Homo sapiens: one gene and its partners. The protein of the gene in region 1 interacts with the protein of each later gene in a biochemical or structural test. Each region holds a gene or a part of one and is shown in the gene's direction. Other genes may lie near its edges.

Region 1 (7,637 bases):
AGTCCATTATATCACTTCATACCTATGTCTTTGCATACTCATAGCTTAGCTTCCACTTACACAGTGAGAACATACGGCTTTTGGTTTTCCACCCCTGTATTACTTCACTTAGAAAAATGGCCTCCAGCTTCATCCAAGTTGCTGCAAAAGACATTATTTTGTTCCTTTTAATGGCTGAGTAGTATTCCATGGTTTATATATACCACATTTTCTTTATCCACTCAGTTGATGGGCACTTAGATTGGTTCCACATCTTTGCAGTTGTGAGTTGTGCTGCTATAAATATACATGTGCAAAAGTCTTTTTCATATAATGACTTTCTTTCCTTTGGGTAGATACCCAGCAGTGGAATTTCTGGATTGAATGGTAGATCTTTTTTAGCTCTTCAAGGAGTCTCCATACTGTTTTCTGTAGAGGCTGTATAGTAGTGTAATAAGCGGTCTCTTTTCCCCACATCCACACCAACATCTATTGTTTTTTGACTTTTTTTTTTTTTTTTTTTGAGATGGAGTCTCGCTCTCGTTGCCAGGCTGGAGTGCAATGGCGTGATCTCAGCTCACCCCAACCTCCGCCTCCCGGATTCAAGCAATTCTCCTGACTCAGCCTCCCAAGTAGCTGGGATTACAGTCACACGCCACCATGCCCAGCTAATTTTGTTATTTTTGGTAGAGACGGGTTTCTCCATGTTGGTCAGGCTGGTTTCAAACTCCCAACCTCAGGTGATCGCCCGTCTGGGCCTCCCAAAGTGCTGGGATTACAGATGGGGGCTACCGCGCCCGGCCCATTTTTTGACTTTTTAAGAATAACCATTCCTGTAGGAGCACGGTGGTATCTCATTGTGGTTAATTTGCATTTCCCTGATGATTAATGATGTTGAATTATTAATGATTATTTCATGTTTTTTGGCCATTTGTGTATCTTTTGAGAAATGTCTATTCATGTCCTTTGCTCAGTTTTTAATGCAATTGTTTTTTTTTCTTTGTGATTTGAGTTCCTTGTAGATTCTGGATACTAGTCCTTTGTTGGATGCATAGTTTGCAAATATTTTCTCCCATTCTGTGGGTGGTCTGTTTACTCTGTTGATTATTTGTTTTGCTGTGCCGAAGCTTTTTAGTTTAATTAGGTCCCATCTATTTATTTTTGTTTTTGTTGCGTTTGTTTTTGGGGTCTTAGTCATGAATTTTTTGCCTAGGCCAGTGTTTAGAAGACTGTTTCCAATGTTCTAGAATTTTTATAGTTTCAGGTCTTATATTTAAATCTTTTATCAACTTGAGTTGATTTTTGCATTGGATGATAGTTAGGGATCCAGTTTCATTCTTCATGTGGCTTGCCAGTTTTCCCAGCATCATTTATTGAATAGGATGTCCATTCCCCAATTTTTGTTTTTGTGTGCTTTGTCAAAGAGCAGTTGGCTGTATGTATTTGGCTTTATTTCTGAGTTCTCTATTTTGTTCCATTGGTCTATGTGCCTACTTTTAAACCAGTACCATGCTGTTGTGGTAGCTATAGGCTTGTAGTGTATTTGAAGTCTGGTAATGTGATGTCTCCAGATTTGTCTTTTTGCTTAGAATTGCTTTGGCTATTCAGGCTGTTTTTTGTTCCATATTAATTTTAGGATTGTTTTTTCTAATTCTGTGAAAAATGATCTTGGTATTTTGATGGGAATCGCATTGAATCTGTAGATTGCTTTGGGCAGTATGGTCATTTTCACAATATTGATTCTTTCAATCCATGAGCATGGGATGAGTTTCCATTTATGTCATCTGTGATTTCTTTCAGCAGTATTTTGTAGTTCTCCTTGTAGAGATCTGTCATCTCCTTGGTGAAGCATATTCCTAGGTATTCTATTTATTTTTTATTTTTGCAGCTATTATAAAAGGGATTGAGCTCTTGATTTGATTCTCAGCTTGGACGTTTTTGGTATATAGCAGTGCTACTGATTTGTGTACATTGATTTTGTAACCTGAGACTTTACCGATTTCATTTATCAAATCTAAGAGTCTGTTGGAGTCTTTAGGATTTCCTTGGTATATAGTCATAATATCTGCAAACAGTGATAGTTTGACTTCCTCTTTTCCAATTTGGATACACTTTATTGCTTTCCCCTACTTTCCCTCTGGCTAATACTTCCAGAACTATGTCGAATAGGAGTGGTGAAAGTGGATGTCCTTGTCTTGTTCCTGTTCTCAGGGGGAATGCTTTCAACTTTTCCCCATTCAGTATGATGTTGGCTTTGTCGTCATATATGGCTTTTATTATTTTGAGTTAGGTCCTTTCTATGCCTCATTTGTTGAGTTCTTTATTGTAAAGGATGCTGGATTTTGTTGAATGCTTTTTCTGCATCTGTTGAGATCATATGGTTTTTGTTTTTAATTCTGTTTATGTGATACATCACATTTATTGACTTGCATATGTTAAATCATTCCAGCATCCCTGGGATGACACCTGTCCCTTATTGATGGACATTCACATGGTTTTTAACCTTTTCCTATTACAAAAATGCTGCAGTGAATAGCCTTGTACATATATAATTTTGTCCTTGTGCAAGTATTTCTATAAGGTACATTCCTGGAAATGGAATTGCATTCTAGTCTTTTATATAATTATTTTTCAAAATGTACCAAAATTCACTTTCTTAAAATAGCTTTAATTTTTATTATATACAGATAATCTTTGCCTTATTTTCATTTTTGTTGACATAATTCCTCCAGGCTCTTAAAGGTAAGATTTAAGATAGTAGCTAAAGAATTTAGATATAGGTCTTGTCACTGGAACAATTTCTTGAAACTTAGAAATTTAAATTGCTTATGATGTCTTTGGTACTGTAACTGCATATTGCCTTTCAAATTACTATTAATTTATCTCATAAATTATTTTCAGATTTTTTTTTCCTTTATTTTGACCCTGACCCTTTTGCCCTTGGTCTATCTACTTTTCTTTTTCTTTCTTTTTTTTTTTCTTTTTCCTTGTCTTGTCTTGTCTTTTCTTTCAACTGGAGTGCAATGATGCAAACACGACTCACTGCCGCCTTGACCTCCTGGCCTCAAGCAATTCTCCCACCTCAGCTTCCTGAATAGTTTGGACTACAGGTGGGCGCCGCTGCACTGGGTAATTTTTAAAATATTTTTGTAGGGACGAGGTCTTACTATGTTGCCCAGCATGGTCTTTAACTCCTTGGCTCAAGCAGTCCTCCCACCTTGGCCTCCCAGAGTTTTGGGATTATAGGTGTGAGCCACTGCGCCTGGCCTATCTGACCATTCTTTAGAGCTTTTGCCCCTCCTTTACTCTTTATACAAACCCAGGCTTAGAAAAGAAAAAAGCAAAAAAATTCAGCCTGTCCCTGTTTTTATATCCAGCCCTTTGGGATCCCAAATGATTATTTTATAATTGACTGGGTCAGTTTTCATATCATTTTATGTTTCTTATTGACTTATAGCCTTGATTCAATCTATGTCCGTTTATTCTCAATTCAGCACATTTTTAGCTTCTATCCTGTGTTCCTGTCATAAGGGACACTATATTATCTCATTTTCCTATACTGTGTACTCAAATGGCTGAATACTTAATCTTTCTATCAGCACCTAGGACAGTGCTCATTACACAGTGGACTTTCATAAATGTTGACTTGAGTTGGGTTTATTTGGCATCTGATATAAAAGAAATATGAATCATTTACAGCTGTATTGATGAAAAGTGCCAAAACATATATTTACAAATTTAGAAAATTAGGTGTAGATCCAGAAATCCCAAAGTATTCTGGTATCAGAGTGTGAATCACAGACCTGCAGAATCCATATCACCTGAAAGCTTTAGAAATGCAGAATCTCAGGCCCCATCCTGGAGCTACTGAATTAAAATCTCTATTTTAACACGATCCCTAGGGATTCATATACACATTAAAGTTTGAGGCCAGGTACAGTGGCTCACGCCTGTAATCCCAGCACTTTGGGAGGCTGAGGCAGGCAGATCACTTGGGGTCAGGAGTTTGTGACCAGCCTGGCCAACATGGTGAAACTCCGTCTCCATTAAAAATGCAAAAATTAAGCAGGTGTGGTAGTGCGCACCTGTAGTCTCAGCTACTTGGAATGCTAAAGGAGGAGAATCGCTTGAACCCAGGAGGTGGAGGCTGCAGTGACCCGAGATTGTGCCACTGCATTCCAGCCTGAGCAACAGAGCAAGACTGTCTCAAAAAGAAAACATTGAGAAACACTATTTTAGTCAACTACGTTGTTCAAAGAAGGAAGAGAGGAGACTTGAGCTAGATAGGAGGGGTGAGTAAGCCCAGGCTTGAGGGCCAAGTCAGTTAATGATAAGAATGGCTTAAGCAAAGGAATGCTGGGAATGGTTCAAGTGATAGAGATTTCACGTTGAGGGTTAGGTGTTGGTAAGAAATGAGTTAAATAGATAAATAGAGGGTGGGTGTGGTGGCTCATGCCTGTAATCCTAGCACTTTGGGAGGCTGAGGCGGGTGGATCTCTTGAACCCAGGAGTTCAAGACCAGCCTGGGCAGCATGGCGAAACCCCGTCTTTACTAAAAATACAAAAAATTAGCCAGGTATGGTTGTGTGCACCTGTAGTCTTAGCTCTTCAGGAGACTGAGATGAGAGGATCATCTGAGCCCAGGAATTCGAGGCTACAGTGAGCTGATGTCACACTACTGCACTCCAGCCTGGGCGATAGAGCAAGAAACCATCTCAAAAATATATGTATAATAATAATAATTGGAGCCAGTACTAAGGAGACCTGTATATCAGGCCAATTAATTTTCATTTGATACTCCAGCAGTAGTCATTGATGATTTTTGAGCTGAAGAGCAATTTGCTGAAAGAGCAGCATTTTAGGAAAGTTTAGCTAGTGACAGTGTCTGAGAAAATTGGGAGGGTGACAGAGTATAAGCAAGAATATAAACAGAGGAGGAGTTTTAGTAAGACAGGCATCAAGTGATGAAACTTGGTCTAAGTATATGACCATGAGAACAGAAATTACAGAAGAGGCATTTCAAAGGATGGATAGAAAAACACTGGTTTTGGCCGGGCGCAGTGGCTCATGCCTGCGATCCCAGCACCTTGGGAGGCCGAGGCGGCCAGATCACCTGAGGTCAGGAGTTCGAGACCAGCCTGGCCAACATGACGAAACCCTGTCTCTACTAAAATACAATAAATTAGCCGGGTGTGGTGGTGGGCGCCTGTAATCCCAGTTACTCAGGAGGCTGAGGCAGGAGAATTGCTTGAACCCAGGAGGTGGAAGCTGCAGTGAGCCGAGATTGCACCACTGCACTCCAGCTGGGGTGACAAGAGCGAAACTCTGTCTCAAAAAAAAAAAAGAAGAGAAAAATACTGGGTTTCTTACTATACTGGAGTATTAGGTAATTTAAGTAGTGGTGCTATTGACAGATAAAGGATGTTAAGAGTGGTGTGGTGGAGAATGACGAGTATTTTATTATACACATACAGAAAGCCTCCTGATTGACTTCTGTCTTAATCTGCTCCTTAGTCTATTTTGGTGATCATCCGTCTCACAGTTACGTCTCACCTTTTGCCTTGCAAATAACATTGTTCTACTTTCTTGCCTATCTGTGTCTAGCACCTTTAAAAGCCTGGTTTAAACCTTTGATCATTCACTCTCCACTTGTAGCAATGTTTTCTTGTAGATGCCAAAAAAGTGATTACTGACTTTATATAGATGTATTTGCCAGGTATATTATATCTGATCACTAATAGTATTTTAGATTTTTTTGTTGTTGTTGAAATGGAGTTTTGCCCTATCACCCAGGCTGGAGTGCAGTGGTGTGATCTTGGCTCACTGCAACCTCTGCCTCCTGGGTTCAAGCAATTCTGCCTCAGCCTCCTGAGTAGCTGGGCTTACAGGCACATGCCACCACGCCTGGCTAATTTTTGTATTTTTAGTAGAGACAGGGTTTCACCATGTTGGCCAGGCTGGTCTCGAACTCCTGACCTCAGTTGATCCGCCCACCTCAGCCTCCCAAAGTGCTGGGTGTATTACAGGCCTGGGCCACTGCACCCAGCCTTTTTTTTTTTTTTTTGAGACAGTATTGCTCTGTGGCCCAGGCTGGAGTGCAGTGGTGCAATCTTGGCTCACTGCAACCTCCACCTCCTGGGTTCAAGGGGTTCTCCTGCCTCAGCCTTCCAAGTAGCTGGGACTACAGGCACATGCCACCACACCCGGCTAATTTTTTGGATTTTTTATAGAGATGGGGTTTCATTGTGTTAGCGTGGATGGCCTCAATGTCCTGACCTTGTGATCTCCTCAGCCTCCCAAAGTGTTGGGATTACAGGCGTGAGCCACCGCGCCCGGCCCTAATTTTTGTATTTTTAATAGAGACAGGGTTTCACCATGTTGGTCAGGCTGGTCTCTGACCTCAAGTGATCCACCTGCGTTGGCTTCCAAAGTGCTCAGATTACAGGCGTGAACTACTGCGCCTGGCCGTGTTTTAGATTTGATCAGGCTAAGAGGGTATTCTTTTGAATGTTTGTTTTTTTCTCTGTTTATTTACATTTGCTTTAGGTTAATAGTGTTTTCTTCAAATGCAAAAGATATATATATATATATATATAGGGATATTTGTCTTTATCCACACTAGCTCCATTTATTTTACATGAGCCATCTTTTCAACAATGGACAGGAGAGTGTAATGAATCCCCATGTACTCATCACCCAGCGTGAGCAGTTATCAACTCCTGACTGCTTATTATGTCTAAATTCCTGCACTATATTATATAGAATATTCCTGCATATTATTTTGGCATAATCCCTGACATCGTATCGTTTTGTTTGTAAATACTTAATGTGTATCTCTAAAAGATCAGAATACTTGATGAAAATCATAGTACCATTATCACACCAAAAAAATAGTAATGTCTTAACATCACTTGATGTGCAGGTTATTGTTTACTTTTCCAAATGGAAATGAGCACCTTTTGAAGAACATAACTTTCAAACTTTCTGGTACAGACTGCAGTTTTTAAAAGATATTTCCAGTGTTATGTTTGCTGATCAGAAGACTATCAACTTTTGATCACCATTATTATCACAGAATAGATAATATATGAATGCCTCCTTAATCTCAGACTAACCACACTCTACCACCCTACTTTCTTTTTCCATCAGAAAGCATTCTAATTTTAAAATTATTCTAAGTCTAATAAAATTGAGAAAGTAAATGTACTGAAAGTGTTATAATGAATTAATAAAAGCCAAACTTCATGCTAATTATTTTTTTAATATTCTTGTATTATCTATCACAGTTCTCTATGATCATAGCAGTTAACACTTACTGAGGACTTACTTTATTGCAGGCACTGCTAAATGCTTTGCCTTTGTTCTTTTACTTAATTCTTACAACAACATCCTTAAGTAGGTACGTTCACGTCCCATTTTATAGATGAAGAAATGAAGGCCTAAAAAGGCTAAGTAACTTCCTTTGAGAAGCTAAGTAACTGCCCATATTCACACAGCTGGAAATCCAGGATGTTAGATGGAAAATTCTGTTGGCAGTGCTGGTGAAAATGCAAATTGGTACAGCCCCTCTGGAGGGGAATTGGGCAGTATCACATTCACCTTTACCCCTTCTCAGCAATGCCATTTCTAGGAATCTTCCCCGAAGATAGTATTGGCAA
Region 2 (7,834 bases), on another chromosome or scaffold:
TACGTGGTAGCCTGGGAACTTAAAACTTCATTGTGTGACCATTCCTATGGGAAAACTGATTGTAAATGGCAAAACATAACTGTACAGGGATTTACAGAAAGATTCATGCCCTTAGAAAAGGTTTCACACACACAGATATATGTCATTCCATCTGTGGGGTATGCAGCTGAAATCTTCCTCCTTGTTCATTGAAAAGGATTTTAAGCTAGAAGATAAACCCAGTGTGAACATATTATAGTCATGGACTGAGCCAGGACTTGGACGCATGCACTTCCTACTATTTCCACAATATCACACCTCCAGTTCCTGACTTCAAAGTTTCCTGGAATTACAGGAGCCCCAGAGGAGTCAGGCTGGCTTCTCTTAAGATTTCTTATTTCTGCTGGCGCATGGAACATAGAAGAGTATTTGAAAACCAGAGCCCCTAGAAATACTAAAGTGTACTCAAAATACTTCCCATTCCCTAGGGGTAGCTAGGTAAAGGTTAATAAAACACATTGAATCTCTCAAATTTGTATTTGGGGGCTATTTTACCCTTTCTTTCTGGCCACTGTGTAACTGTCTCTCCCTTCTATACCTCAACACAATGGTTTTCAAAACTAACCAGTTACACACTTGGTTCTAACATGGTGCTTCTGTTGCTCCTCAAAGCCAACCTCATCGACCTCAGAATCTTCATACTTACCCACTCCTTTTGCCTAGGAGGCCTATTCGTCCCCAAACCATTGTGTGATTTGCTCTCTTGCTTCTTTCAGGTATCTACTCAGGTATTACCTACTGTGAACACCCTATCTAAAACAACTACCTACCTTTGCCCTATCCCCACCACTCTCTATCCCCCACCCAGCTTTATTTATCTTCATAGCCCTTATTGCCTGAAATTACATTGTCTTATTTTCCTTGCGTTTGATCTCCCACACTGGAATATAAGGTTCATGAGTACAAACCTTGCCTACCTTGTTCACAGACCCATCTTCGGAGATGAAACAGCATTTGGCATGTAGTAGACCTCAATACCTTGATGTCTATACATTGGTGGCTATTCCGCCATCTTAATATCCCTGATTCCCATTAATCCTGCTAGAACACTATGTGGCACTTCACACCTTTACAGTTTATAAAGCATTATTGCTCCTCACAGCAAGTTCCTTTTATATTGTATTTAGGAGAGCAAGAACACCAACTCTGGCCTGAGCTTAAATTTAATAACATTTCTCCTCCAAGGTAGTATCTATCACCTCATCAAGCATGGAGAAGGCAGCTCTACAGACAACATAATCCAAAGCACTATTATGAATCATTAACTTCCAATGTTTTCTCAGACTTATAAAGCAAAGATATTCTTAAACAACCAATACTTATTACATTATACTCATGAAATGATACTTAATCACTACCATTCTAGAAGGAAACACTGTCAGGTCTCTCAATACATACAACCATGGTCTTTCTTGTTACACTAGCTCTATCACACTGAATCCTAAAAGATGACACCAACACCCACGACTTTAAAAACTGCATCTGTCTGTCTTCAAATGTTTCAGTTCTCCATTTCACTTGTGCATCAGTTATTTCATTTTTACTATTAAATAAATAATTTCATTATCATATGTACATTTGATAAATATGTGCTTTTTCTTTTATTTCTTTACAAATTCTCGGATGGCCAAACTTCCCTGCCACAGTATTACCAATTCTCATTAAGCAGAACCATTCCCAAGGAACCGCACCCACAGGACATGTTTTCCATTCCTGCACGAAAAATCTCTAAAACCCAGGGTGGGAAGGGGACAGCACTCAAAGCCCATATAAGTTAAACCACAGCCTGATACACTCCTCATGAACATCCCAATGACAGGGAACTCAAAATCATTCAGGATAATTTTACATTTCTGCCAGTTCTATTAGAATGTCTTTGTTCTGATGTGAAATATTTCATGTAAGTTCAAATCATCAGTTTTAGATTTACCTGTTGCAGCCAGAAAATGTCACATCCCTCTTCACATCCTTCAGAAGTTTCCATGCATGTGTTCAAGATTTTTTCCTCCCTAGATAAAACCCCACTAGTTCCTTCAAAAATCCCAAAACAACTTGGTTGCTTGATTCCTTCCTTCAGTCATTATTTATTGTGTCATGCCTTATGGTGGGTACCTGGGATAGAAATGACTTGAGCAGGTTCTCTGTTAAAGTCTAATGAAGGAGATAAATATGGAAACATCACTGGTCTTATAATGATATGAACAAAATGCTATGGGGGCAAAAGGGAAAACTAGTAGCTACTGCTGCTTACAGACAGAGAAGGCCTCAAGAGGAAATAACCCCTGAGCTTAGTCTTGGAAAATAAGTAGAAATTTGCCTTGAGATGAGGGAGAAAGTTTGTGAATTCAGAAAACAGTAATGGGTTCACGAGTGCTGGATCATAGGACAGCAAAGAAAGATTAGGCTGAAGGCCGGGCGCAGTGGCTCACGCCTGTAATTCCAGCACTTTTGGAGGCAGAGACGGAGGATCACAAGGTCAGGAGATCGAGACCATCCTGGCTAACATGGTGAAACCCCGTCTCTACTAAAAATACAAAAAATTAGCTGGGTGTGGTGGCACGTGCCTGCAGTCTCAGCTACTCAGGAGGCTGAGGCAGGAGAATTGCTTGAACTCTGGAGGCAAAGGCTGTAGTGAGCCGAGATCGTGCCACTGCACTCCAGCCTGGGCGACAGAGTGAGATTCCATCCCAAAAAAAAAAAAAGGAAAAAGAAAGGTTAGGCTGAAATGACCACTAAGAGCTTTGGTATCCCCCCGGTTTTTTTTTTTTGTTTGTTTGTTTTTTTTAGTTCAGCAACAAGTAACAGAAACTACGCAGAAGAGTAACAGCAGAGCGAACGATGGACTGGAAAGCAAACAGCCTGAAGAAAAGGGTTAAGTAGCAAATGCAAAGCAGTAGAAAGGGAAAAGGAAAGAGCTTATGAGAAAGCTTTCAAGCAGAGTTTAAAGTCTGGCATATGACTAGAGAGAGAAAGAGCATAAGAAAAATCCAAGATGACGCTGACGTTTCTGGCTCTGAGTAAATGAGTGTACAACAGTGCCATATGGAAGTAAGGAGATATAATTGAGAGTGAGAGAGCTGAGCTGAAAAGAGACTAAGTTTTGTGTAGGACGAGTTATCTGTAGGACAGATTGCTTATGGGGCCGCCAGATGGAAATGTGAGTGCAAACCTCAGGTCCAGAGACACCAGTTTAATGACATCGGTTTTCTCAAAGTTATCTCTGACTCTATTCCAGTTTGTTAACTTTCCTTTTTTAAGAGTAGTGCCCTAAACTGAGCAACGAGAAAAAAAATGTCGCCTTCCTCCCAAAAGGCCTTTAACTACTCCCACGGCCACGTCACTAGAAGCTCATTTTGCCTTTGTCAATCTTCACATGCTAGGGTCTCCACCCCAGAATCAGCGAGGTTCTGGGTCCTATCTCCGAGTCTGGAAGCGAACGAACTGCAGGGTTCCTTACCTCTGCCGGACAGTGGATCCCGCCGCCCGGGCGGCCACTGCTTTGCTGGGAGAGCGCCCTGAGGATCCCACGTTAGTGCCACTGGGGGTCGGACCAGGCTGTAGAGGGAGACAAGCAGACAGACGGGTGAGCGCGGCAGGCCTGCCCCAGAACCCCGGCCTAGACACCCACACCCGAGGCTGGGGGAAGCAAGGGAGCTACAGAGGAAAAGCACGGCGCAAAGCAGGAGGAGTCAGGGCTTCTGGGAGAGGCGGGGATCATGGAAGGGCCGCCATACCATATTGGAGATGAGGGTGGCAAGGCGCTGACGCGGACGGATAGAAAGTTACGGAGCCCCCGAAAGACCGGCAGCTGGCGAGACTGACTCAGGCCCCGCCCCCGGACTTGCAGGCAAGGTCCTCTCTGACCCCAGGGACGCCTGGGTCGTCTCACGATATGCCTGTAGACAGTCTGCTACAGACAACTTAGTTACCTGCTGTATGGGAAGTAGAGACCTCCGGCCTCCTTCCTTTGGATCACAACGTCCTTCAGAAAGTCCAATCCCTACCGAAGGAAAAATATAACCGGGGTCAGACAAGATATTTTCTCAGGCAGTTACTAGACCCTCACAGATTTGCGCTGATGTGGCCTAACTGACGCACGTACGGCAGGGCGGGGTCGGCCCGCAGTGGCCAGCTGGGAGCTACGAGCGCGGAGCTTGCGCAGAAGACCCCCATCAGGGTGCGGGGTGCAGTTGCGGCTCCAGGGCCATGGCGGAGGAGCAGGGCCGGGAACGGGACTCGGTTCCCAAGCCGTCGGTGCTGTTCCTCCACCCAGACCTGGGCGTGGGCGGCGCTGAGCGGCTGGTGTTGGACGCGGCGCTGGCGCTGCAGGCGCGCGGGTGTAGCGTGAAGATCTGGACAGCGCACTACGACCCGGGCCACTGTTTCGCCGAGAGCCGCGAGCTACCGGTGCGCTGTGCCGGGGACTGGCTGCCGCGAGGCCTGGGCTGGGGCGGCCGCGGCGCCGCCGTCTGCGCCTACGTGCGCATGGTTTTCCTGGCGCTCTACGTGCTGTTCCTCGCCGACGAGGAGTTCGACGTGGTAGTGTGCGACCAGGTGAGGCGGCCGCGGGGCCGGCTGCGCGAGTGCGGACCTCGCCGTGGAGGGCGGCCGCGGGCATGACCCCTGAGAGAAGACCTTCCCTGTCTGCGGTTCGCAAAGATCGGAACTGACATGGAGAAGTCAGGGTTGTGAGCGAGCCTGTGGTTCTCTAACTTTAGTGTGGGCCCATTTAAAGTTGCAGATTGCTGGGGTTCCATCCTCCAGGAAGTTTTCATCCAGGTGCCCTGAGGTGGGGCCCAGACATCTGCATTTTAACTGGGTCATAGGGTGATTCCGAGGTAGATAGTCTTTGGGGCTCTGAGAAACGCTGGTATTAGAAGTCAGCTTCAGTCACCTTTTACTAATGAGTAACTCGCGTGTTGTCTTCCCGCTTACCTGTTATTTTTGTTGACTCTCCTTTCAGGCCATTTGCATCCCACTGTCCTTGTGTTCGGAGCCAGGCCACACCGTCCTCAGCAGTGTCATGTGTTAAAAACGCCAAGCTGAATATATCATGCCCCTATTAAAACTTGTACATGGCTCCCCATTGGTTTTTGGAGAAAAGTTCAAGCTTTTTACCTTGGTAAATAATGTCCACCTGGATCTGCCCTGTAGCTATTCTTGACTCTTTCCTTCGTGCATTTTTCCCCATCCTAAAAAAGATGACTTTAAAAAGTAACATTTACTCGATTAAAAATTTAGTAGTATAGAAGGATGTAACCTAAAAGCCCCGTCCTATTCTACTCCCTGAAGATAGCCACCGTTAAGTTTCTCTTGTATTTTTTCAGAAGTTGTGGTGACACCAGCCTGTGTCTTTTCATAGGTATATCTATATCTTCTTATTGGTACATAATTGGTATTATGACATACCTACTATTAGGCATCTTTTTCAGCAAAAATTTATTTATTTATTTATTTATTTTGAAACGGAGTCTTGCTCTGTCTCCCAGGCTGGAGTGCAGTGGCGCGATCTCGGCTCACTGCAACCTCCGCCTCCAGAGTAGCTGGGAGTACAGGTGCGCGCCCCACGCCCGGCTAATTTTTTCTATTTTTAGTAGAGATGGGGTTTCACCATGTTGGCCAGGCTGGTCTCGAACTCCTGACCTCGCGATCCGCCCACCTCGGCCTCCCAAAGTGCTGGGATTACAGGCATGAGCCACTGCGCCCAGCCGGGACATTCTTATGTATCAATATTAGAGATTCACTTCATTCTTCATAGTGGCCAGAAAATCCACTTTTGTTTAAGTGTGTCATAATTAAACATTCTCCTTAAAGGACACTAATGTTGTGACTAGTTTTTTGTGAATAGATCAGTGTTGTAATGAACATCCTTTTACTTCTTTTTTTTAAAATATTTTTGTACTTCTGCAAATATGTCGTTTGAGGAAATTCCTAAAGTTGGTGGGTCTAAGAGTTGTTCATTTTAAATATCAATAGCTACTGCCAAGTTTGCCTACCAAGGAGGCTGTGTCACTTTACTCCCCCACAATGTATGATAGAGCCTCTTACTCCATGCTTTTGTCCGCCTTGGATATTAACCATTTTAAACTTTGCCAAACTGATAGGTGCAGATGGCATCACATTTGTATTTGTGTTTCTTTAATTATGACTCCTGAGTTACTTTTGATCATCCTTGCTTGCATGGAAGCTTTCTTTTTAAGTAACGTGGACATTTACCAAACATCCTGCATGTGTCAGTAGACATGAGGCAGCTGAGACTATAGTGGGTAGAGGAAAAATTATTGGCTTGGAAATAGGCATCTTGGATTCAAGTTCCGTATCTACTGCTTTAATTAAGTGGCTTTGAATAAATTGCACATTATCCCTAAAGTTACCTTCTTCAGGTTTTAAGTTAGCTGAGACTAAAATGACTTGTAAAGATTACCCAACAAGAAAGTCTGTAGTAATGCCAGCATGTAGTTCATGCTCAATGATGACTAGCTTTAATATTTATTGAGCACATACTGTGTGCTAAACTCCATGTGTTTTGCATATATCAGTGCATTTAATAATCACAAAAAGTATATGGGTTTTTTGAACTATAATTTGTCACCATGTTACAGAAGAGGAAACTAAGGCCCAGAGTGGGATAAATTACTTGATCGTGGCCAGTTAGTAGAGCTGAGATTCAAACCCTGGCAGTCTTGAATCTAGAGCTTGTGCTCTAAACTACTATAGTTCATTCATTCAGTTCCTTAGAAGGAGAAAGATCCTAGAGCGGCACTGTTCAGTATGGTAGCCACTAGCCACATGTGGCTGTTGAGCACTTGAAATGTGGCTAGTCTAAACTGAGATGTGCTAAAGTTAAAATACAAACCGATTTTGAAGATGTAATGTGAAATATATGTATATATAAAGTATCTCATTAATACTGTTTAGTATTGGTTACATTTTGAAATGATAATGTTTTCGGTAAATAATATGTTAAAATTAATTTCACCCTTAAAAACATTTTTAATATTACTAGATTTCTATTAGACAGCACTATACAAGAGGAAATCACTGGACTTGAAGCTTTAAATGTTTAGCACACATCTAGCAAACGTCTGTAGCCTTCTGTACACCAGGCATATGGTACTGGGTGAGAGTCTTGGGGAATAAAACAGAATCAGACATTGCCCATGAGGAGCCCACAGACTAGCCAGACGGGGTGGGTGTCTGTGTTTTTGGTTTGGTTGAAGTTGAGTTGACCACTTTATCCGCTGTTGATTTTTGCTTTGGCTAGGTGTCTGCCTGTATCCCAGTGTTCAGGCTGGCTAGACGGCGGAAGAAGATCCTATTTTACTGTCACTTCCCAGATCTGCTTCTCACCAAGAGAGATTCTTTTCTTAAACGACTATACAGGGCCCCAATTGACTGGATAGAGGAATACACCACAGGCATGGCAGACTGCATCTTAGTCAACAGCCAGTTCACAGCTGCTGTTTTTAAGGAAACATTCAAGTCCCTGTCTCACATAGACCCTGATGTCCTCTATCCATCTCTAAATGTCACCAGCTTTGACTCAGTTGTTCCTGAAAAGCTGGATGACCTAGTCCCCAAGGGGAAAAAATTCCTGCTGCTCTCCATCAACAGATACGAAAGGAAGAAAAATCTGACTTTGGCACTGGAAGCCCTAGTACAGCTGCGTGGAAGATTGACATCCCAAGATTGGGAGAGGGTTCATCTGATCGTGGCAGGTGGTTATGACGAGAGAGTCCTGGAGAATGTGGAACATTATCAGGAATTGAAGAAAATGGTCCAACAGTCCGACCTT
Region 3 (7,637 bases), about 22 Mb from region 1:
ATGATGCTTTGGGTGACTCTGAAGTATTTTATTGAGGAAAATGATAGAATGCCTTCCAAGCTTAAATAATTTTGGAAAAACATCTGTTCTTTTTTCACACTTACATAAAGAAAACTAGAAAAAAATTGGCTTGAGTAGTAGAAAGTGTACCTTTCTTAGGGAAAAAAGAAGTACATTGTATGCAAAATGAATAAATCTTATGTTGTTTGAATGGTTGTACAAGGTAGCTCCACAAAGAGTTAAGAAAACCTGCCAAACCAAAGAAGACTTGTTTGCCTTTCAATGTATTTCACTATGAATAATTTGATTACACGGACTTACTGGCAACAAGTGTTTGTGTCTTTGTATTTCATCTTTACTACATCTTAAATGTAGCCATCTTTCTTAAACATACATATAGATTATTGTGAGTTTCCAGTTAAAATGAAACTATCTAAATAGACACATTAATTTCCAGTTTACGTTCATGCTAGTTTTTGATTCTCTTTTTTTTAGATGTAGGTAACTGCCCCGCTAATGTTCTGTTCATTTATCTGATATATGCAAATATATCTGTTTAGTTTTTACTTACTAAGGTTGCCTTCTGAGGATTATAATTTTTTTTAGTTCTGGTTTCTTGGTAAATTTGGTCATTTAAAAATAGTATAAAATGTAAATTAACTTAATAACTTGAATCATTTTAACATTTTTGGCTTGGAATTTTTCCTTTAATGTGGGAATTGGAGGGAAGGTTCTGTCAGATTCCAGCACTGAGCCAGGACACTCCTGCTATAACTATGAGGTAGGAGGAGGGTTTTTATTGGTCTCTTTCACAATCTGTATAGATACAATACTTATGTGAAGGAAAGAACTGATGTAGCAAATTGGAATCTGTATTCCACTGCTACCAAATAACTCCTTGAGAATGTAAAACTACTAAACTATATTTGGAAATAAACTGAGCAAATAAACCCTTAAAATGAAAAACAAAACCTAAGCATTCATTATGTGAGATCAGATAGCCTGTTGATTGCCTATATAGAATAGTTCTTATGGACTTAAGTAATTTTATTTCATGAAGTTTCATTCCTGAAATTGATTCTATATCATGTTAGAACATTCAGTCTCTGAAATTTTGATCTAAACCCCTTATCTTTTGAAAATATTCCCAAATCTTTTCCATTTTCATGTCACAGGGTTTCAGTCATTTCAGTTGGATTATATAGACTTGAGTTCCTAAAAGTGGTTAGTGTCTTTGTATTTTTGTAAGCTGTTGCTTTCACTCCATGTTCTATTTTGTTTCCTTTCTTTTTCCTTTGTTGTTGTTGTTGAGACAGAGTCTCACTCTGTCACCCAGGATGGAGTGCAGTGGCACGATCTTGGCTCACTGTAACCTCCGCCTCCAGGGTTCAAGCAACTCTCCCATCGCAGCCTCCTGAGTGGCTGGGATTACAGGCACGTGCCACCAATGCCTGGCTATTTTTTTTTTTTTTTTTTTTTTTTAGTAGAGATGGGGTTTCGCCATTTTGGCCAGGCTGATCTTGAACTCCTGAACTCAGGTTATCAGCCCACCTGGGCCTCCAAAAGTGCTGAGATTACAGATGTGAGCCACCACACCTGGCCCCTGTTTCACTTTTTCATTGCGAAGTACTTTGGAGGAGTTGAGGATAAAAATATTTATTTATATTTATTTATTTATTTATTTATTTATTTATTTATTTATTTATTGAGACGGAGTCTCGCTCTATCGCCCAGGCTGGAGTGCAGTGGTGCCATCTCAGCTCACTGCAAGCTCTGCCTCCCGGGTTCACACCATTCTCTTGCCTCAGCCTCCTGAGTAGCTGGGACTACAGGCGCCAGCCACCACGCCCGGCTAATTTTTTTGTATTTTCAGTAGAGACGGGGTTTCACAGTGTTACCAGGATGGTCTTGATCTCCTGACCTCATGATCCGCCTGCCTTGGCCTCCCAAAATGCTGGGATTACAGGTGTGAGCCACCGCACCCGGCCTATTTTTATTTTTAAGGAGGCATTCATTTTAAGAGATTATTTAATCTTTTAAACTTTATACTGATATATCTCAAGAAAAACAAAATGTTCCTAAAGACTGTATATTAAATTCTGTTGGAAGTTGAGAGAATTCTAGAATTCTAGTGTAATCATAGATGGCATAATATTAAAACATAGATGGCTTGAAAGGTAGAAATTTAATTCCAAAAGTGCCCTACATCTCAGTTCAATACTTCTATGGGATTGCCTGTGACATGCAAAATATTGTAAGGCATTAGAGGTAAGAGCTACATAGGTCCTACCATCCAGGAGTGAACAAGGGGTTAACAATACTGCACAAGTAAATATTCTAGAAAGTAGATAGAGTAAGGTAAGTCACAGGGGAGATAACTAAGAGAGTTGGCAAAATATAATCAAGCCTGTTTGGTTTTATGGTGTCAGAAACTCATGTGGAAGTAGAAGGGTTTAAAGTAAGTATTTGAAGAAGGGCTATGATTTAGGTGAGTGGAAATGAGAGGAAAGAGGGAGGGATAGAGATAGGGATTGGGGAAATACATTCCAAGCCATTAGCAAAGTGACAGCACAGAAAAAGAAAGCAGGGCCCCTCTGGGAATTGGGAGCAACTAGTGGCTGTGCTAAAGTACTGTAGTGGGAACTGTGGAAAAGCAAGTTTAGGCCAGTGAGAATGAGAATCTTGGTTTCTATGATTTGATAAAGTAGGCGAGAGGGCATTCTTTTGGGTTTTAGAATAGCTAAGGCTCATTTGTGTGTGTGTGTGTGTGTGTGTGTTTTACACCAAGGACTAATAGTTACCCACTAATGCAGTTCTGAATGCCAGAATATCAGTTCAGCTTTCTTACCCCCACCATCACAGTCCTGTTAATAGTCGTAACTATATAACTAGGTAAGAGTAGTTAATTGAAGCAAACAGCAGATGATTAGAAGTCTTAAAGAAACCAAGTTCCAAGTTCCTTTTTCCACTCACTTCCAAATGTTCTCATTGAAAGTAATCTAACTTGATGCCACAGACTAGCACTGCAGATTCCTCACATACCTAGGCAAACTGAACATCAATGAGAATTGAACCTGAAGTTGTTTTTCGAAAGTCATCTTTCTTGTTTTTGTGGAGGAGTTAAATTCCAACCTAATGTTATTCTAATAGAGTTTCTAATTTAAGGTTGATTGTTAATTTGACATTACAGTTTATGCAGTAGAAATGAAGTCCCGGGAGCATTTATAAAAATGTATGAGACCAGCGTGCTAAAACCCTATTAGGGTATTTTGAAGCACAGTCAAGTTGCATGCCCCCAAAATGGGTCTTATAATGAAGATACTGGTAAGCTCTTAAATAGAATGGCTCTACTACCTGCCTGAGAATATAAATTACCAGCTTCCTTGCTCTACTGGGTCACATTTCCAAGCTCCTGCTACTTGTTATCTGGATTCCTAATGGGAAAGGGTAGAAGAACACAGATGATGTTTCTATTGTTGCTGTTTGCAGGTTATAAGGCATATGGACACATTTTTTTTTCTGTCTGCCTAGCAATGGAGGGTCTCCATGGTATCCTAGCAACCATATTCGAACACCAGGCTGCTGCTCTTTCTGCCATCTCTACCATAGGTGCTGCAGCCCATCCCAAGAAACTGGGTCTGTTGCTAGCATTCCAGATCCTCTGACTTGAACCTTTCAAGCTCAGAGAACGCAAGACAATGTGATAAATAAGCACATGCTGAAAGCAGCATTTACCAGTATGCTCAACAACTTATTATGCAATCACATCCTTGGCATTTTGTATCCTAATCTGAATTGTTGAGCTGGTACTGTTTGCCACCCCTTCCCCGACAGCCCTTGTCTGCTTCCTCACACTCAGTTCTGACACCGGTTCTGCTTCCCTCTCACCATCTTCTGTAACGACTGTGTTCCTCAGCACTTCCTTAAAATTTATTTTCTGAGAAGTTCAGTATGTGCAACCTGTTTGAACTCTCTAAGGATAATTTTGTTTGTAAGAGCAGAGGAATTTTCTCCCTCCAAAACTGTCCTGTAAATATAAACAATAGCACAAAAACTTCAGCTACACAAAACAGATGTTTAACACAATGTGGAACTAATAGTACACTCTCAAAACTGTCTTATTTCTGAATGAATTTTATAAGCATACTACTCTCCAGCTTTTTTCATTGCTTATAAAATTCATATAAGCATTCCTTCTGGAGGCTCTAGGGGAGACTCCATATCTTGTCTTTTTCAGCTTCTAGAGGCTGCCTATATTTTAAGCGTGAAATTTATAAGCAATGAAAAAAGCTGGAGAGTAGAGTGAGAAGAAGAAATGCATATCGAGGGAACAAGAAAGGGCGAAACGAGATGGGTATTGGTAAAACTATGCCATATTTGCAAGGAAGTTGGAAAATAGTGATAGGCTTTGTGTGCAAGTAAATAGGTGACAAGACTGGAAAAGAGCTTGCAAGTAAGATAGTACTTTATGGATGAAGACTGCCATAGAGAAGAGACACCCAAATTAGAGTATATCGAAGGCTTGCCTTCTTAGGGAGCTATACTGAAGATAGTTTCCCATTAGACCAGTGCTTGTTTTGAATGCATTGTATTGTCCCTTTGAAATGCTCCTTAATTTGACATCATTGAGGACTTGGTGGTGTTTGTGCAGCCAACAGTGCAGAGGACAAGAATAAGGGCAACAACTCAGTGCATCCTGCTTCTGAATGAAAGCATCAAGAATTACACTGCTCATCATCATCAGATTGGGTAACATTTATGGAGCACTAACTCTGTGCCAGGCACTGCTCCTGTGCTTTATATAGATTGTCTCTTTCATTGATTGAATGATTGATTGATTGATTGAGACAGGTTCTTTCTGTCTTATTGCCCAGGCTGGAGTGCAGTGACACAGCCATAGCTCACTGCAGCTTCAAACTCCTGGGCTCAAGTGATCCTCTTGCCTCAGCCTCCAGAGTAGCCAAGATTATAGGCACATAGCACCACACCTGGATAATTTTTAATTTTTTTCTGTAGAGACAGGGTCTCAGTTGCACAGGCTGGTCTTGAACTTCTGGCCTCAAATGATTCTCCAGCATCTGGGCCTCCAAAGAAAGTGCTGGGAATACATATGTAAGCCACCGCACCCCACCTGATCATCTTTTTTTTAGGACAAAAACAACCCTATGAGGAAGATTCTGGATTATCCCAATTTCACAGCATGAGAAAAAGAACTCTGGGGCGCAGAGAAGTGAAGCAACTTGCCCACAGTCACACTAGGTTGAGCCTGAATTTGAGCTCCAGAGCTTTTCTCCTTAGCCACTAGGCTCTCTTACTGCCCAAAGGGTCATGGGGATTAGGTAGCTGCAGGAAAACTTTATGAATAACATATAGGTCATTCTCTGGGGTGTATCTGTTCACCAATAATTAAATAGGAAGCAGAAGGACTCTGGGACTAGTGGAAGAAATAATGTAGGACGGCGGTTCCCAAACTTTCCTGCGCATTAGAATCACATGGGGAACATAAAAATCCAATTCCTAGATTGTACCACAAACCAATTAAAATCAGAATGTCCGGGTGTTGGAAGCTACATATCAGTAATTTTTGATGATTCTCCATGTAACTTTAACGTGTAGCAAAATTTGATAACCACTCTAATAGGAAGATGACAAGAGGAGTGTGTGTGTTTGTTGTGTGTGTACATTTGTGTGTGATATTAAACAAAAGACCAGGATAAAGTGTTCATCTAAAGAGTTGAATGTCTCTATTGGCTAAAACCTTTAAGCACTAGGGGCCTGCGAAAGCATAGCTGGATTTTTTTTTTTGCCAAATTGTACGTGTAGACAAATTGTACGTGTAGTTTAGTTGATGCCTTCTTGTTTATTCTCCTAAACAAGTGATCATTTCCCTACCTAGCCCATTGGTTCTCAAACATAGCTGTATGTTACAATCACCTAGGGAGCTTTAAAACATACATTTGCTGGGCACCACCTCCAGAGCCTATGATTTAATTGCTCTGGGGTAGACCTGAGGTATAGGTATATTATTTTTACTCCCAAAGTGATTATAATATTCAGCCAGGGTTGAGAAACCTCTGCTATGACCCATTCATTGTTGATTGTTACAGACTACTTGAATTCCTATTCTTTGGGGAAGCACCTTTCTTGTTTCTTTTTGAGCAACCCAAGTCCCTGGCTTGCAGTGGAGCCAGGCAGCTTCAGCTCCCCAATCTCCCTAGCATCTGAACCTATCAGCATCACTTTAATCTCTGGGGTTACCTGTTAAGGACCTGGGGCACACAAAAGTGGCAGCAGCTCTGTTCAGTGGGTAAGTTTGTTTCCCCTTTCCTGCCAGCCAGGGTTCCTGGCCACTTTCAAATGTGACACACATTAGGATCAGCTTTCATCCCAAGTTTTTTGTTTGTTTGTTTTGTTTTTAAATTCTTGCTGAGGGCAGCTGCCTCTGTGGCCAGATAGTTTCTTTGGGTCCCAGCTCCTGCTATCCAATGCTAAGTTGAAGGTGAAACAATGATGAGCGCCTCTTGGAAGAGCAGTCCTGGGCTTGTAGCGTCTCTCTTGGTATGTGATGTCTCTGCAGCCAGCTACAGTTTTTTTTTTTTTTCCTACAGATATTTTATCCTTTTAAGGCAAACAGCGTGAGCTCAGGCTGAGGAGTACTTTCCGAGGAGACTTCAGAGAAAGCAGAACTAGCACATCAACCTTTCAGCCCCCTTTCCAGGAGGCTTGGTTTAAGTGGACAGATCTGGGCATTGCTGGCAGTTGAGAGGTCGGAGACGACACCTGCAATAAAAGATCTTGGTGTGTCCCTCATGAAGACTTCCAGGGGAAATGAGAATTCCTAAACCCTGTGGTCAGACCTCACTGCTGCCCCTATTGCCAGCTCTGTGTGTCTTTCCTGCCCTCTGTCCCCTTAGATCCTTGTTACAAAGTCCTCAAGGTGTTGCTAATGGTCTCTGCTAGGAGCCTATTTACATTTGTAATTTAATCATTACCTTCTCAGGTGAGGATCAGCCAATATAGCACTTTATATAAGCAATGAAAATAGCTAATATAATTGCAAATACTTTTTGATAAAAATAATCTTAGAATCGGAGTCAGCAAGGAGCTTTTCTGTCTTTTCCCCACTCCTAAAATATGAAAATGTATTCAGCTGACAGATAGTATGTTAAAACAGAATAGATGTAATAAGGCTACCCGGAGGATTGGGGACATTAATTATGCAGGGAAGTTAATCATAAGTAAAGTAAACACTTTCATTATGAATCCAGCTTCATGGAGTGCATTTGGTTATTGCGCGTAATTGGGGAGGGATAAGAGGAATTAGAAACAATGAAAAACATGACCAAAAACATGTGTTTAATTATTATGACTTAGCAGTTAGAAGCAGAATGATAGGCAGAAGTTGGTGGTAGGACACTGGGAAAATATCTGTGTCTTTGCATTCTTTTATTCCAACCTATGAAAGGATGGGAGTTCATATAAAAAGAAGAAATTAGTGACAATTTACTACCAAGATATACTACTTTCACCTGCATCAAAAATAAAATAATGTTAATTACTTTTGCCTTTCTAAAGATCATAAATGTAAATTAAACTTCAGATTTGCTTTAAGATAGATGTAATTTAATTCACTTCTA

What was found.
Region 2: the proteins of ANXA7 (region 1) and ALG2 form a complex in vitro, tested with the Homo sapiens proteins (one study listed by BioGRID).
Region 3: of the proteins of ANXA7 (region 1) and PRKG1, one has a biochemical effect on the other in vitro, tested with the Homo sapiens proteins (one study listed by BioGRID).

The regions. Positions count from the first base shown.
Region 1 is NC_000010.11:73,403,647-73,411,283, reverse strand, and holds part of ANXA7 (annexin A7), read left to right. Parts: intron 1-2,965; exon of another isoform or gene 2,966-3,108; intron 3,109-7,637. UniProt on the Homo sapiens protein: Calcium/phospholipid-binding protein which promotes membrane fusion and is involved in exocytosis.
Region 2 is NC_000009.12:99,218,306-99,226,139, reverse strand, and holds the start of ALG2 (alpha-1,3/1,6-mannosyltransferase ALG2), read left to right. Parts: upstream 1-4,197; 5' UTR 4,198-4,245; coding exon 4,246-4,593; intron 4,594-4,624; exon of another isoform or gene 4,625-5,092; coding exon of another isoform or gene 5,093-5,161; intron 5,162-7,303; coding exon 7,304-7,834. Other genes in the region: SEC61B (protein transport protein Sec61 subunit beta), read right to left, coding at 1,970-2,023. UniProt on the Homo sapiens protein: Mannosyltransferase that operates in the biosynthetic pathway of dolichol-linked oligosaccharides, the glycan precursors employed in protein asparagine (N)-glycosylation.
Region 3 is NC_000010.11:51,076,928-51,084,564, forward strand, and holds part of PRKG1 (cGMP-dependent protein kinase 1), read left to right. Parts: intron 1-7,637. UniProt on the Homo sapiens protein: Serine/threonine protein kinase that acts as a key mediator of the nitric oxide (NO)/cGMP signaling pathway. GMP binding activates PRKG1, which phosphorylates serines and threonines on many cellular proteins.